2 linked regions of the Homo sapiens genome follow. Each later gene encodes a partner of the first gene's protein in a complex. Each region holds a gene or a part of one and is shown on either strand. Other genes may lie near its edges.

Region 1 (5,408 bases):
AGAGGATGTAGAAATCTTTTTTTGGCATTGTAGCTAAAGAAATAATGTCCAAGAGTTGCTTTAGGCCACCAAGCTTTGGACCCAGTTTTATGCTTCAGCAATAAAAGTTATTTACTGTTTTAAAGAAACAAAAAACCAAAACCTTGCCCTGATTTGAAAGTGCATGTAGAGTTTTTGATTATCACAGAAATTTGTTGTGTACCGTCTTTTTTATTATAAGTTCAGTGCTTTGAAAATTAGAATCCAAGGTGGGTATGGTTGGCTCACGCCTGTAATCCCAGCACTTTAGGAGACCAAGGTGGGAGGATGGCTTGAGCCCAAGATTTCAAGACCAGCCTGGGCAACATTATGAGACCCTATCTCTCATTTTTTTTTAAATAAAAATTAAAAAAAAAATTAGAATCCACATATTTGGTGTATACATAGTGTATGCTTTGAGGAACAACAGGATTTCTCTGGTGCTCCTTTGCTTTCTAAATAGTCATAGCAGTGACCTGTGTGATTCTCCTACAGTGAAGACCTAGGAAAGGACGTTGAATTTGAAGTTGTTGGTGATGCCCCGGAAAAAGTGGGGCCCAAACAAGCTGAAGATGCTGCCAAAAGCATAACCAATGGCAGTGATGATGGAGCTCAGCCCTCCACCTCCACAGGTGAGTATGGCCCCAGCCAGCAGGTTGTTAAATACCCACAAAGCAGAAGTAAAAACAAACTGATTATTAGGAACATTGACCATAAATCCATAAAACTACTAGAGGTGTGTATTGGTTTGGTATTGATTGTTGTAATGGAGCTTTGAATTTATGAACCATGAAGACATTTAAGGCTGGGTGTGGTGGCTTACACCTGTAATCCCAGCACTTTGAGAGGCCAAGATGGGAGTATTACTTGAGGCCAGGAGTTGGAGAACAGCCTGGGCAACACAATGAGAGACCCCCATCTCTACAAAGAAAAAAAAAAATTAACCACGCATGGTAGCGTGTACCTGTAGTCTCCGCTACTCAGGAGGCTGAAGTGGTTCACTTGAACCCAGGAGTTCGACACTGCAGTGAGCCATGATTGCACCACTGCACTGCAGCCTGGGCAACAGCAAGACCATGTCTCAAAAAAAAAAAAAAAAAAGTCATTTAAGGCCTGGCATGGTGGCTCACACCTGTAACCCCAACGCTTTGGGAGGCCGAGGCGGGCAGATCGCCTGAGCTCAGGAGTTTGACACTAACCTGGGCAACACAGGGAAATCCCATCTGTACTAAAAATACAAAAAATTAGCTGGGCGTGGCAGCATGCGTCTGTAGTCCCAGCTACTCGGGAGGCTGAGGCAGGAGGCGGAGGTTGCAGTGAGCTGGGATCGCGCCACTGCACTCCATCCAGCCTGGGTGACAGAGCGAGGCTTCCGGCTCCAAACAAACAAGTCATTTAAGACTGGGGGAAATTCTTATGGAAATTTCTTACAGAAAATAAGAACACTTTGTTATTTTTTGTTAATTGGTTTTTAACAGTTTGAAATGATAGTTTACTAGTGTGCAAAGTCAGCCTATGTAGTAGCAGGTTGGGGTTTTGTATGCTTGTTTTAAGGAGCAATAAATCCATGCATCTGACTATTTTGAGTGAACAGGTGCTTGTTAAGTATGGAATTTAGGCATGTTAGAGTTTCCTTGTCACCAGTATGACTTGGGTATAGTCCTTTCCCCTGGATTTTCAGTGCTGGTGCTTGGTATTTTTCCAAATAACTGATTGTTTACTGTATTCTGATTTGAATATTTACTCCTCTCCCTTTCTTCCTTTAGTTAGGAAACTAAAGGTTACCAGATTTTGACTTCTTTGTTTTCATTTCTTTGACCCTATGTCTGTGGCATTCTTTGGAATATGTTTACTCTTGGCTCTAATGTTCTCTTGAGAATTTTGGAGACGAACATTCAGATTATGGCCTGGGTCATTGGTTCATAACCTGTTTTTTCCCCCCTCACTGAAATTAGAAAGGTCCGTCATCTTCCTTTGAGGAAGAGACTATCTGGTAGATTTTCCAAAATCATAATTTGAAATGTACATTTATTGATTCTCTACTGTGGGTAGGTTTCCAAGGTTACAGCCATGAGTAAGATAGGTATTCTGCCTTTGATTTTGTTGGACGAGGAGATAAAACCACCTTTAGTATCAGTTCTGCATTGGGGATGGTTCCTGGCTTCATCCTCTGCTACTATGTAAGCTTGGGAAGTCATTCACTGAGTTTCCTTTCCTGGAAAGCAGATACTCATGTGATCTTCTTTATAGGGTTGTGATGATTAAATGAGTTGTCATATGCACAGTGCTCAGAACAGTTCCTGGCACATTGTAAGTGCTGTATTGTTGTTGCTATTGTTACCACTACTACCATTATTAGAATATGTACCCTCTGCTTTTCTATTGGAGAATGTGGAGGTAGAATCAAGGATGTGTAATGAGTACTTTGAGTTACATAATGCTTGTCACAATTTTTTGTTTTGATTAGAAAATAAATAGGTTCTTATATAAAACATTTAAAACAGTATGGAAATACGTAATGTGTAAAGTGAAAATGCAGCCATTCTTAAGTCTGGTGTGTATTAGAAGAGTCAGCTTTCAATTATAGAAAATACAGGTGAGCACAGGTAACTCCCACGCTTTTACCCATTTTCTTTTTCCCTTTTTTCTGAAATAAGCTCAAGAGCAAGATGACGTTCTCATAGTTGATTCAGATGAAGAAGATTCTTCAAATAATGCCGACGTCAGTGAAGAAGAGAGAAGCCGCAAGAGGAAATTAGATGAGAAAGAGAATCTCAGTGCAAAGAGGTCACGTATAGAACAGAAGGAAGAGCTTGATGATGTCATAGCATTAGATTGAACAGAAATGCCTCTAAACAGAACCCTCTTACTATTTAGTTTATCTGGGCAGAACCAGATTGTTATGTCCTTTGTTCCAAAGGGAAAAAATTGACAGCAGTGACTTGAAAATGATTCTGCTCCCTTTGAAAGCATTCATTTTGCTAGAACTGTTAGACACATTGCAGTATGCTGTATTGAAAGTAGGAATATAGTTTTAAAAACCCTTTGAACAAAGTGTGTGCATAACCAGTCATGAGATAAAACAACACAATGCATGTTGCCTTTTTAATGTAAATACCCGTAGGTATCATTAATAGTTTCAAAATATTGTGGTTTAGTAAAGTTGATACCTGGTTATAAATATTATGCCTTTATTTTTGGCTAGAAGAAGAATTATTTTTAGCCTAGATCTAACCATTTTCATACTCTTAACTGATTGAAACAGATTCAAAGAAGTATCGAGTGCTATGCATTGAAACTTGTTTTTAAATGTTAGATGGCACTATGTATATTAATGTAAAACAATGTTAATTTACTCAAGTTTTCAGTTTGTACCGCCTGGTATGTCTGTGTAAGAAGCCAATTTTTGTGTATTGTTACAGTTTCAGGTTATTTATATTCGATGTTTTGTAAAACTCAAATAACGACTATACTTATGGACCAAATAAATGGCATCTGCATTCTTGTTACACATGCCTGCACAGTTCCTGTTTCTGCTGCCTTATATCTACTGCAGGAATGTCAAATTCTTTTCATTAAAAAAAGAACTCGGTCGGGCACGGTGGCTCATGCCTGTAATCCCAGCACTTTGGAAGGCTGAGGCAGGTGGATCACCTGAGGTCAGTAGTTCAAGACCAACCTGGTCAACATGGTGAAACCCCATCTCTACTAAAAAAAAAAAAAAAAATTAGCCGGGCCTGGTGGCAGGCACCTGTAATTCCAGCTACTCAGGAGGCTAAGGCAGCAGAATTGCTTGAACCCGGGAGGCAGAGGTTGCAGTGAGCCAAGATTGTGCTATTGCTACTCCAGCCAGGGCGATGAGTGAAACTCCATCTCAAAAAAGGTTCAGAAGATCTCCACTGTTTGCCAAAGACGAGTACTTTCTTTTCTTTATTCTTGGAGACTTCACATGTAGGAAGAGTACTTTCTAAAATAAAGCTCTTCCTGCGTGTGGTGGTGGTGCACATCTGTGTTCCAGCTACTCAGGAGGCTGAGGCAGGAGGATGGCTGGAGCCCAGAAGTTCAAGGCCAGCCTGGGTAACATAGCAAGACCCTGTCTCTAAAAAATAAGTAAATAAAATAAAGCTTTTAATGGCAGTGGGTTTTTTGTTCGTTTTTGAGATGAAGCCTCACACTGTCATCTGGCCTGGAGTGCAGTGGCGCGATCCTGGCTCACTGCAGCCTCCGCCTTCCAGGTGCAAGCGATTCTCCTGTCTCAGCCTCCCCTGTAGCTGGGATTACAGGCGCCCTCCACCACGCTCAGCTAATTTTTTGTATTTTTAGTAGAGATGGGGTTTCACTATGTTGGCCAGGCTGGTCTGGAACTCCTGACCTCGTGATCCACCTGCCTCAGCCTCCCAAAGTGCTGGGATTACAGGCGTGAGCCACTGCGCCTGGCCTAATGGCAGTGTTTTTAAAATTTGGATTGTCAGCAGTTGGCCTTTGTTGAGAAAATGTGTGACTTTGCCCAAGCCCAGTAACTTGGAGCCTTGAATTTGAGATGCTGGAAAGGGAGTCCTTCCTCCTTTCTGCAGTGTTTGTCTGGGTTGTCCCCTAGTTTACCAAAGTCCATTTTGAATGTACCATCCCCAGCCCAACTCCAGCCTACAGATAGTGCCAGACCGCCAGTAGGTGGAGTAGCACTGTCTTCCTGGTCCCGGACCTCAGAGGGCTTTGCCTGTTAGGGTACTCTTATCACTCAGAGATGGGCCTTGAGTTTTCAGAGAACAGAAAGCCATTAAGCTGTTTCCCCTATTGTATTCATGTGCCCTTTGTGTTTCTGGCAATAATTTATTTTATATTTCAACTAAATTTTAAATTTCTAATTCATGTATTGTTCCTTGTGTAATTTGTACTGTACCATTCAGCTTATTAACCATTACTCCTTGTTTTCCACCATTTGTAAATTCAGCATGTAATCAGAGCTTTCAGAAAAACCATGTAGAAGACTGGGTGTGGTGGCTCACACCCATAAGCCTTGCACTTTGAGAGGCTGAGGCAGGAGGATCGTTTGAGCCCAGGAGTTTGAGACCAGCCTGAGCAACATGGCAAAACCCCATCTCTACAAAAAATACAAAAAGTAGCTGAGCCTGGTGGCACTTGCCTGTAGCCCCAGCTATTCGGGAGGCTGATGGAGGAGGATCGCTTGAGCCTGGGAGGCGGGGTGTGCAGTGAGCCAAGATTGTACCACTGTACTTCAGACTGGGTGACAGAATGAGACCCTGTCTCTGAAAAGAAAAAAAAAGTCATGTTGACTAAGACTCAGCCTTCTGGAGCCCCAGAGTGGAGTGACTTTCACCTGTGAGCTTCATCTGCCTTTAGGTTTTTAGAAGGTGTTTAATTTTCCTCCA
Region 2 (7,037 bases), on another chromosome or scaffold:
AAAAGATGGGAAATAGCCTAGAATATCAACTGTGATGGTCCCTGGTGGGGCTAATGGTGGCAAACTTTTCTGCTTTTTTGTAAAGAAATAACACAGGGTCCTAAAAGCCCGTATATCCTGGAAGCAGAGGGTCTGCGTCGGAACAGCCGACTCTGGAAGGGCGTTGGCTATGTCCCTGGACGTCTCCTGCAGCTCCTCCCATCTCCCCTGAGTCTGGCCCAGCTGGAAAGGATGTGGGGGCCACAGGTTAAGTGGCCACCCTGGGGCCTGTGTTCCCAGACTGCCTGGCTGTGCTGGGAGTTCTGTCCTGGGAGAGACACAGCTTCGTCTCGGCTGCGGCCGTGTCCCCAAGGCTCTGTTCCCTGTGTGCAAAGGTGGATATGTCTTCCTTTAGTCTCCTCATGGCCACAATTTAATTTTTTTGAAAAGTTTTTGGCCAAATAACCTGGCTACCAACCCGGGGCCCCAGTGTTGGGAGGAGGGTGATGTGGGGAAGGACGTGACTCTGGGACAGTGCCTGCCTCCAAAAAGTGCTTCCTTTCTTCCTCTTCCTCCAGGTAAATTCGAACCACCATTATTTCACCCGAATGTGTACCCTTCGGGGACAGTGTGCCTGTCCATCTTAGAGGAGGACAAGGACTGGAGGCCAGCCATCACAATCAAACAGGTACGGGGCCTCCGCCTCTGGCACCGGCAGGGCTGCCTTAGTCTCCCCTCCGGACACGTGGGTCTGTGGTCATTCTCTGTGGCTGAGGCCGAGTCTCACGGTGTCTCCCTTTCAAACTGCTCACACCCGTCTTGTGTTTTTGTCTCTGGCACAGATCCTATTAGGAATACAGGAACTTCTAAATGAACCAAATATCCAAGACCCAGCTCAAGCAGAGGCCTACACGATTTACTGGTTAGTAGCAGCCCTGGCCCCGCTGGTGGCAGCTCCTCCCCGTCCCAGCCAAGGCCGCCTGGCAGGACGGGAGTGGAGGACACAGGCTCACCCTACGGACAGCCAGGGTCCACGCCTCTGTGGGGAAGGTCGGGGGGCATAAACCCTGTGGGCAGCAGGCACCGTTGCACACCGTCTGCGGTGGGCATGGATGGCGCCGGAGCCGTGTCCCGGGGAGGGAGCAGGCCAGGTGACGGGCTGTCTTGGGCCACTGCCCCAGTGAGTTGTGGCCAGCTAGGAGGGGAAGGACCCTGGGCGTGGGTGCCAGAGGAGGCCATGCTGAGAGGCCTCTCCACCGGCTCAGCCTCCCATGGACCCCAGCCTCCCGCGCCGCCCTTGCTGCTTGTCCCCATCCCCTCTACAACTTGGTTCCTTCTGTGGGGGGGCCCAGCCCAGCAGGGCTCAGTGACGTGATGCTGTCACACGGACCCTGGGCTTCCACCCTGTCCCTGTGAGGTGCTGCTGTGGCTAGAAGGGTCCCCGTGGGCCTGGGGTCCTGTCTGCACCGAGGAGGGCCTGGTGTGAGTTAGGATGCAGACGACAGCCAAACAGTGCTGGGGAAAGCAGGGAGGACCCTGCCCTGAGCAGAGGCCATGCGCCCGCCTGTCCTGTTCCCTCTGCAGCTGTTCTGGGCAGGTCCATAAGAAGGTGGGTTGGGGCCTCCGACCCCCCACTGCTCCGCCTGCAGCGTTGAGAAACCCAGCCCCATCTCACCACGGGTCCCCACACCTCTGAGGGGGTCTCAGGGCCCCCAATGGCCAGGGACCCAGAAGGCTCACCTGCAGCCACCCCACACATCCCTGCCACTGTGGGCATCAGAGGCCCTCTCCCTCCAGGGTGCATCTCCTGGTCAGGAGGGGGGAGGCTGAGGGGTCCCGGTTGCCTTAGGCCCGGCCTGCACAGGTCGTGAGGAAAAGCACCTGGTTTCGGCCGGGCGCAGTGGCTCACGCTTGTAATCCCAGCACTTTGGGAGGCCGAGGTGGGTGAATCATGCGGTCAGGAGTTCGAGACCAGCCTGGCCAACATGGCGAAACCCTCGTCCCTACTAAAAATACAAAAAATTAGTTGGGCGTAGTGGTGGGTGCCTCTAATCCCAGCTACCTGGGAGGCTGAGACAGGAGAATCACTTGAACCCGGGAGGCGGAAGTTGCAGTGAGCCGAGATCCTGCCACTGCTCTCCAGCCTGGCGACGGAGGAATGCTGTCTCAAAAAAAAAAAAAGCACGTGGTTTTGGAGAGATGTGTTTCTCCCTGGATGCGGGCCCAGCCCAGGTGTCTGCAAGGTGCCCTCCCTGGTGGCCGAGGGTGGCACAGAGGCCCCAGGCAGGGAGCAAGTATCACAGCAGCCACCCCAGGCTCAGCCTGGCTCCCCTGCATGGTGGTGCACACCTGTAGTCCCAGCTATTTGGGAGGCTGAGGTGGGAGGACTGCTTGAGCCCAGGAGGTTGATGCGCAGTGAGTTGAGATTGCAGCACCGCAATCCAGCCTGCTTGACAAAGCGAGACCCTGTCTCAAAAAAAAAAAAAAACTCATAGCCGCTCAGTCAGCCAAGCCATTGCTGGAAGTGGCTCGTGGGACGTGGCGTGACCTGGGTTTGTGTGCTGGCCTGCTGTGCCCTAGGAGTCCGTGAAATGCATTCCCTTGGACAGGAAGCCACAGTGCTCGTGGGTGTCCACATGGCCCTTGAGGCAGAAAATGTTTTCTTTTTTTTTTTTTTTTTTTTTTTTAAACAGAGTCTCACTCTGTCGCCCAGGCTGGAGTGCAGTGGTGTGATCTCAGCTCACTACAACCTCTGCCTCCTGGGTTCAAGTGATTCTCCTGCCTCAGCCTCCCAAGTAGCTGGGATTACAGGCACCCACCACCACACCTGACTAATTTTTGTATTTTTAGTAAAGACAGTGTTTCACCACGTTGGCCAGGCTGGTCTCGAACTTCTGACCTCAGGTGATCCACCCGCCTCGCCTCCCAAAGTGCCGGGATTATAGGCATGAGCCACCGTGCCTGGAAAATGATTTCTAGGCCAAGTGTGGTGGCCCAACACCTGTAATCTCAACACTTTGGGAGGCCAAGGTGGGCTGATTGCTTGAACTCAGGAGTTCATGACTAGACTGGGCAACATAGCGAGACCCTATCTCTACAAAAAATTAAAAAATTTGCCAGGGGTGGTGGCTCATGCCTGTAATCCCAGCACTTTGCAAGGCCACTGTGGGACGTTACCTGAGCCCAGGAGTTGGAGACCAGCCTGGGCCACATGGCAAGACCTGCTCTCTTTAAAAAAAAAAAAAAAAAAAAAATTAAGCCGGGGATGATGGTGCATGCCTGTAGTCCCAGCTATTTGGGAGGCTGAGGTGGGAGGACTGCTTGAGCCCAGGTGGTTGATGCTGCAGTGAGCCAAGATTGCAGCCTGGGTGACAAAGTGAGACCCTGTCTCAAAAAAAAAAAAAAAAGCATGCCGGGCGCGGTGGCTCACGCCTGTAATCCCAGCACTTTGGGAGGCCAAGGTGGGCAGATCACGAGGTCAGGAGATTGAGACCATCCTGGCTAACACGGTGAAACCCCATCTCTAGTAAAAATAAAAAAAATTAGCCGGGCGTGGTGGCGCACACCTGTAACCCCAGCTACTCGGGAGGCTGAGGCAGGAGAATGGCTTGAACCTGGGAGGCGGAGCTTACAGTGAGCCGAGATCACGCCACTGCACTCCAGCCTGGGCAACAGAGCCAGACTCTGTCTCAAAAAAACAAAACAAAAGGCAAATGTTTTCCTGCCTAGCCCTTAGATGGTCTGCCATCCCCAGCATGGTGTGGGCGTGAGCTCTGTCTGGCCTGCACCCCATTTGCCGACCATCTCCAGAGCTGGGCTGTGGCTCCCATCTGCGGCGTGGGCTGGGCAGGGTTGCAGTCCCCCGCCCCGTGTGACTCTCCCCAGCGTCTCCTGGGCTTGGTGCCTGCTGGGCTGCACTGTACACTTGCGTGCACGTAAACAAACGTTCTTTCTCCTACACACATCCGCTTGAAAAGCACCCTTTGTGAAGCATGTGTGCGGGTTTCAGATCGTTTTTCCTGGGTTTCCTGGAGGCCTTGGACCGTGTTCCTGCCCTGGCAGGTGCCTTTTCTCGGGGCCTCTGCTTGGTCAAGGAAGAGCTGGGACGTGTAGCCACCGCCTCTGGTTCCTTCCACGCCCACCCAGCTGAGCTGCTCTGCCCTGGGGCCGGCTGGTGGCCCAAGGAGGGCGCTGGGGTCTGGGCTGCGGTCCAGGCCCTTGGCGTGGGTGGGGGTGGCACCGGCGCTGCTGCCGTCCTGGGCTGTTCCACCATGCAGAGTGAGGCTCAGTGTCTCAGACCAGGTCCAATCCTGGCGAGACTGGCAGGACTGCGACCCCAGGAGCCACCTCCATAAATGTCATGGTGTTCCCCCATCCTCAGGGTCACACTGCACCCTGTGACCCATCAGCCCCTAGGTGCAGCCTCGGCCGCCCTCCCGCCCACCTGTTTTGCCCGGGCAGTGTGTGCCATGCCACTCTCCTGGGCAGCTGCTTGCAGGCTGAGCCTCACTCTACCCAGCTCCAGACCTGTTCGCTGATGCCCCTGCACTGCCCAGCTCGGGCACAACGCCTTCTCAACCAGGCCTGCCTTCCCACACCTTTGCCCCTGCGGCTGAGAGCCTCATGGAAAAACCCTCCAGAAATTGGTGTCTATTTTTGGGAATTAACAAAAACAGTGGCAAGCAGTCAGTGTTTTCAGTTTATTAGGACTGTCCCCAGACCTACAGAAAAGAGAAGCTGCTGATTACTAGTTAGGACCAGACTTGGCATCGGCAACGATGTTGCAGGCCCTGGCGTGGGCCCTCTGGGCCTGAGCCCTCCTCGCAGCCCTGCGGGACCCCTCTGTCCCCCTTGAACACCACGTTCACCCAGCGTGGGTTCCTCTCCTCCCTGCCCTTCTGCCCCCGTCAGACCACGGGACAGTCTCAGCCACGTCAGAGCCAGCATGGGCTCCCCACCACGCAGGCCTCCCTGCTTCTCCGGGCTTCTGCTTCTGTTACTATGACGAGCTCCACACTGCCCTCCCCCAGGAGGTCCCATCCTGCAGCCTGGTCTGCCCAGCTGGCTCCGGGGCGAGCGTGAGGGCCAGGCAGCTCAGCCCTCTAACACGTCTCTTCTCTTTTGACCTCCTCAGCCAAAACAGAGTGGAGTACGAGAAAAGGGTCCGAGCACAAGCCAAGAAGTTTGCGCCCTCATAAGCAGCGACCTTGTGGCATCGTCAAAAGGAAGGGATTGGTTTGGCAAGAACTTGTTTACAACATTTTTGCAAATCTAAAGTTGCTCCATACAATGACTAGTCACCTGGGGGGGTTGGGCGGGCGCCATCTTCCATTGCCGCCGCGGGTGTGCGGTCTCGATTCGCTGAATTGCCCGTTTCCATACAGGGTCTCTTCCTTCGGTCTTTTGTATTTTTGATTGTTATGTAAAACTCGCTTTTATTTTAATATTGATGTCAGTATTTCAACTGCTGTAAAATTATAAACTTTTATACTTGGGTAAGTCCCCCAGGGGCGAGTTCCTCGCTCTGGGATGCAGGCATGCTTCTCACCGTGCAGAGCTGCACTTGGCCTCAGCTGGCTGTATGGAAATGCACCCTCCCTCCTGCCGCTCCTCTCTAGAACCTTCTAGAACCTGGGCTGTGCTGCTTTTGAGCCTCAGACCCCAGGTCAGCATCTCGGTTCTGCGCCACTTCCTTTGTGTTTATATGGCGTTTTGTCTGTGTTGCTGTTTAGAGTAAATAAACTGTTTATATAAAGGTTTTGGTTGCATTATTATCATTGAAAGTGAGAGGAGGCGGCCTCCCAGTGCCCGGCCCTCCCCACCCACCTGCAGCCCCACCGCGGGCCAGGACCAGGCTCTCCATCTGCTTCGGATGCACGCAGGCTGTGAGGCTCTGTCTTGCCCTGGATCTTTGTAAACAGGGCTGTGTACAAAGTGCTGCTGAGGTTTCTGTGCTCCCCGCATCTGCGGGCTGTAGAGCGCTGGGCAGCTAAGATCTGCATAGGTCGGGATTGGCATCGAGACCCTGGCAACTGCACCGGTGCCAGCTGTCTTGGGGGCCACAAGGCCAGGTCCAGACCAGGGCTGGGGGCTGCCTGAGGACTCCTATCCGGGCAGCCTGCTGGCGGGGGTTCCCCTCTTCAGTGGCCAGGTCACAGGGATGGAGCTGCGCTGTGCATAGGGTGCCACCTCAGGTGTCTGTCCCTTGTGTCCTCAGGAGGCAGCCTTGCTACCACCCGTGGCAAACGCCAGGTGCTTTTTCTGGGAGAGCCCACAGCCGTGGCCCTCCAGGGCTTCCCCGACCCTTAGCGCCAGGTAGAGGGCCCTGGGCAGCCTGTGTCTGGAATTCTTCGTCCTGAGGCCACCTGAGTGTGGTCTGTCCTGGGGAGGCTGTGCGCCTCAGCAGCCGTCCTGACGCTGAGCCCTCTGCAAAGGTTGGGCCGGCCAGGCCTCTTGGGGCTGCCTGAGCCACTGCAGGAAGTGGCCTGGCTGGGAAGTTGGGTGCCGGTCACCTCCCAGCAGGAAGGCACAGTGGACAGAGATGGGAAGCCCTGGGGGACACAGCCCGGTGCTCCCAGCCCTCCAACCTCTGGCTCCCAACCCAGTCTCCCCATCCTAGCGAGCTTGGCCCTCCTCAGTTTCGTTTCAAGCCTTGGGGCTGGAGCTGGCCCTGCTGCCCTGGCACCCCCCGGTGGCTGGAGCTGGGTCCCCGTGGCCCAAGTGCAGGGTCCCAAGAGGGCAGGGCGGGGCTCCCCAAAGGAGCAAAGAATGCAGGGAGGGCGGTCCAGGGCCCTGGGAAGGGGAGCTCGGCACCCTCCAGGTCCGTGTGGGACTCCAGCCGCTGTTGGCTGGGAATCGAAGTTAGAGGTGACTTCCAAAGGCCCCCCGAGCCGGCAGTGCCCCCCACCACCCCTCCAGCGACTCTGCGGTGCCAGTGCCTTGTTGGCTTTTCCGGCTACGCACCCTGCAGTCACTGAGCTCTCGGTCTGACGTCTGATGTTTGTGGTTTGTTTATAACACGGGGCCTTACCTGGGGAATTCAGCTGGTTTGAATATTT

The links.
Region 2: the proteins of UBA2 (region 1) and UBE2I are in contact, whole or in part, in a crystal structure (PDB 4W5V), measured with the Homo sapiens proteins. Residues at the interface, in NP_005490.1 of Homo sapiens: Asp479, Gln481, Gly485, Lys486, Gly487, Thr488, Ile489, Leu490, Ser492, Ser493, Glu494, Glu497, Thr498, Asn501, Phe509, Asp520, Asp521, Phe522; in NP_003336.1 of Homo sapiens: Ser2, Leu6, Arg13, Lys14, Arg17, Lys18, Val27, Lys30, Asn31, Asp33, Gly34, Thr35, Met36, Asn37, Leu38, Met39, Asp66.

What each region holds. Positions count from the first base shown.
Region 1 is NC_000019.10:34,466,365-34,471,772, forward strand, and holds the end of UBA2 (SUMO-activating enzyme subunit 2), read left to right. Parts: intron 1-513; coding exon 514-650; intron 651-2,675; coding exon 2,676-2,857; 3' UTR 2,858-4,887; downstream 4,888-5,408. UniProt on the Homo sapiens protein: The heterodimer acts as an E1 ligase for SUMO1, SUMO2, SUMO3, and probably SUMO4. It mediates ATP-dependent activation of SUMO proteins followed by formation of a thioester bond between a SUMO protein and a conserved active site cysteine residue on UBA2/SAE2.
Region 2 is NC_000016.10:1,319,617-1,326,653, forward strand, and holds part of UBE2I (SUMO-conjugating enzyme UBC9), read left to right. Parts: intron 1-557; coding exon 558-667; intron 668-821; coding exon 822-901; coding exon of another isoform or gene 902-1,043; exon of another isoform or gene 1,044-5,113; coding exon 5,114-5,177; 3' UTR 5,178-7,037. UniProt on the Homo sapiens protein: Accepts the ubiquitin-like proteins SUMO1, SUMO2, SUMO3, SUMO4 and SUMO1P1/SUMO5 from the UBLE1A-UBLE1B E1 complex and catalyzes their covalent attachment to other proteins with the help of an E3 ligase such as RANBP2, CBX4 and ZNF451.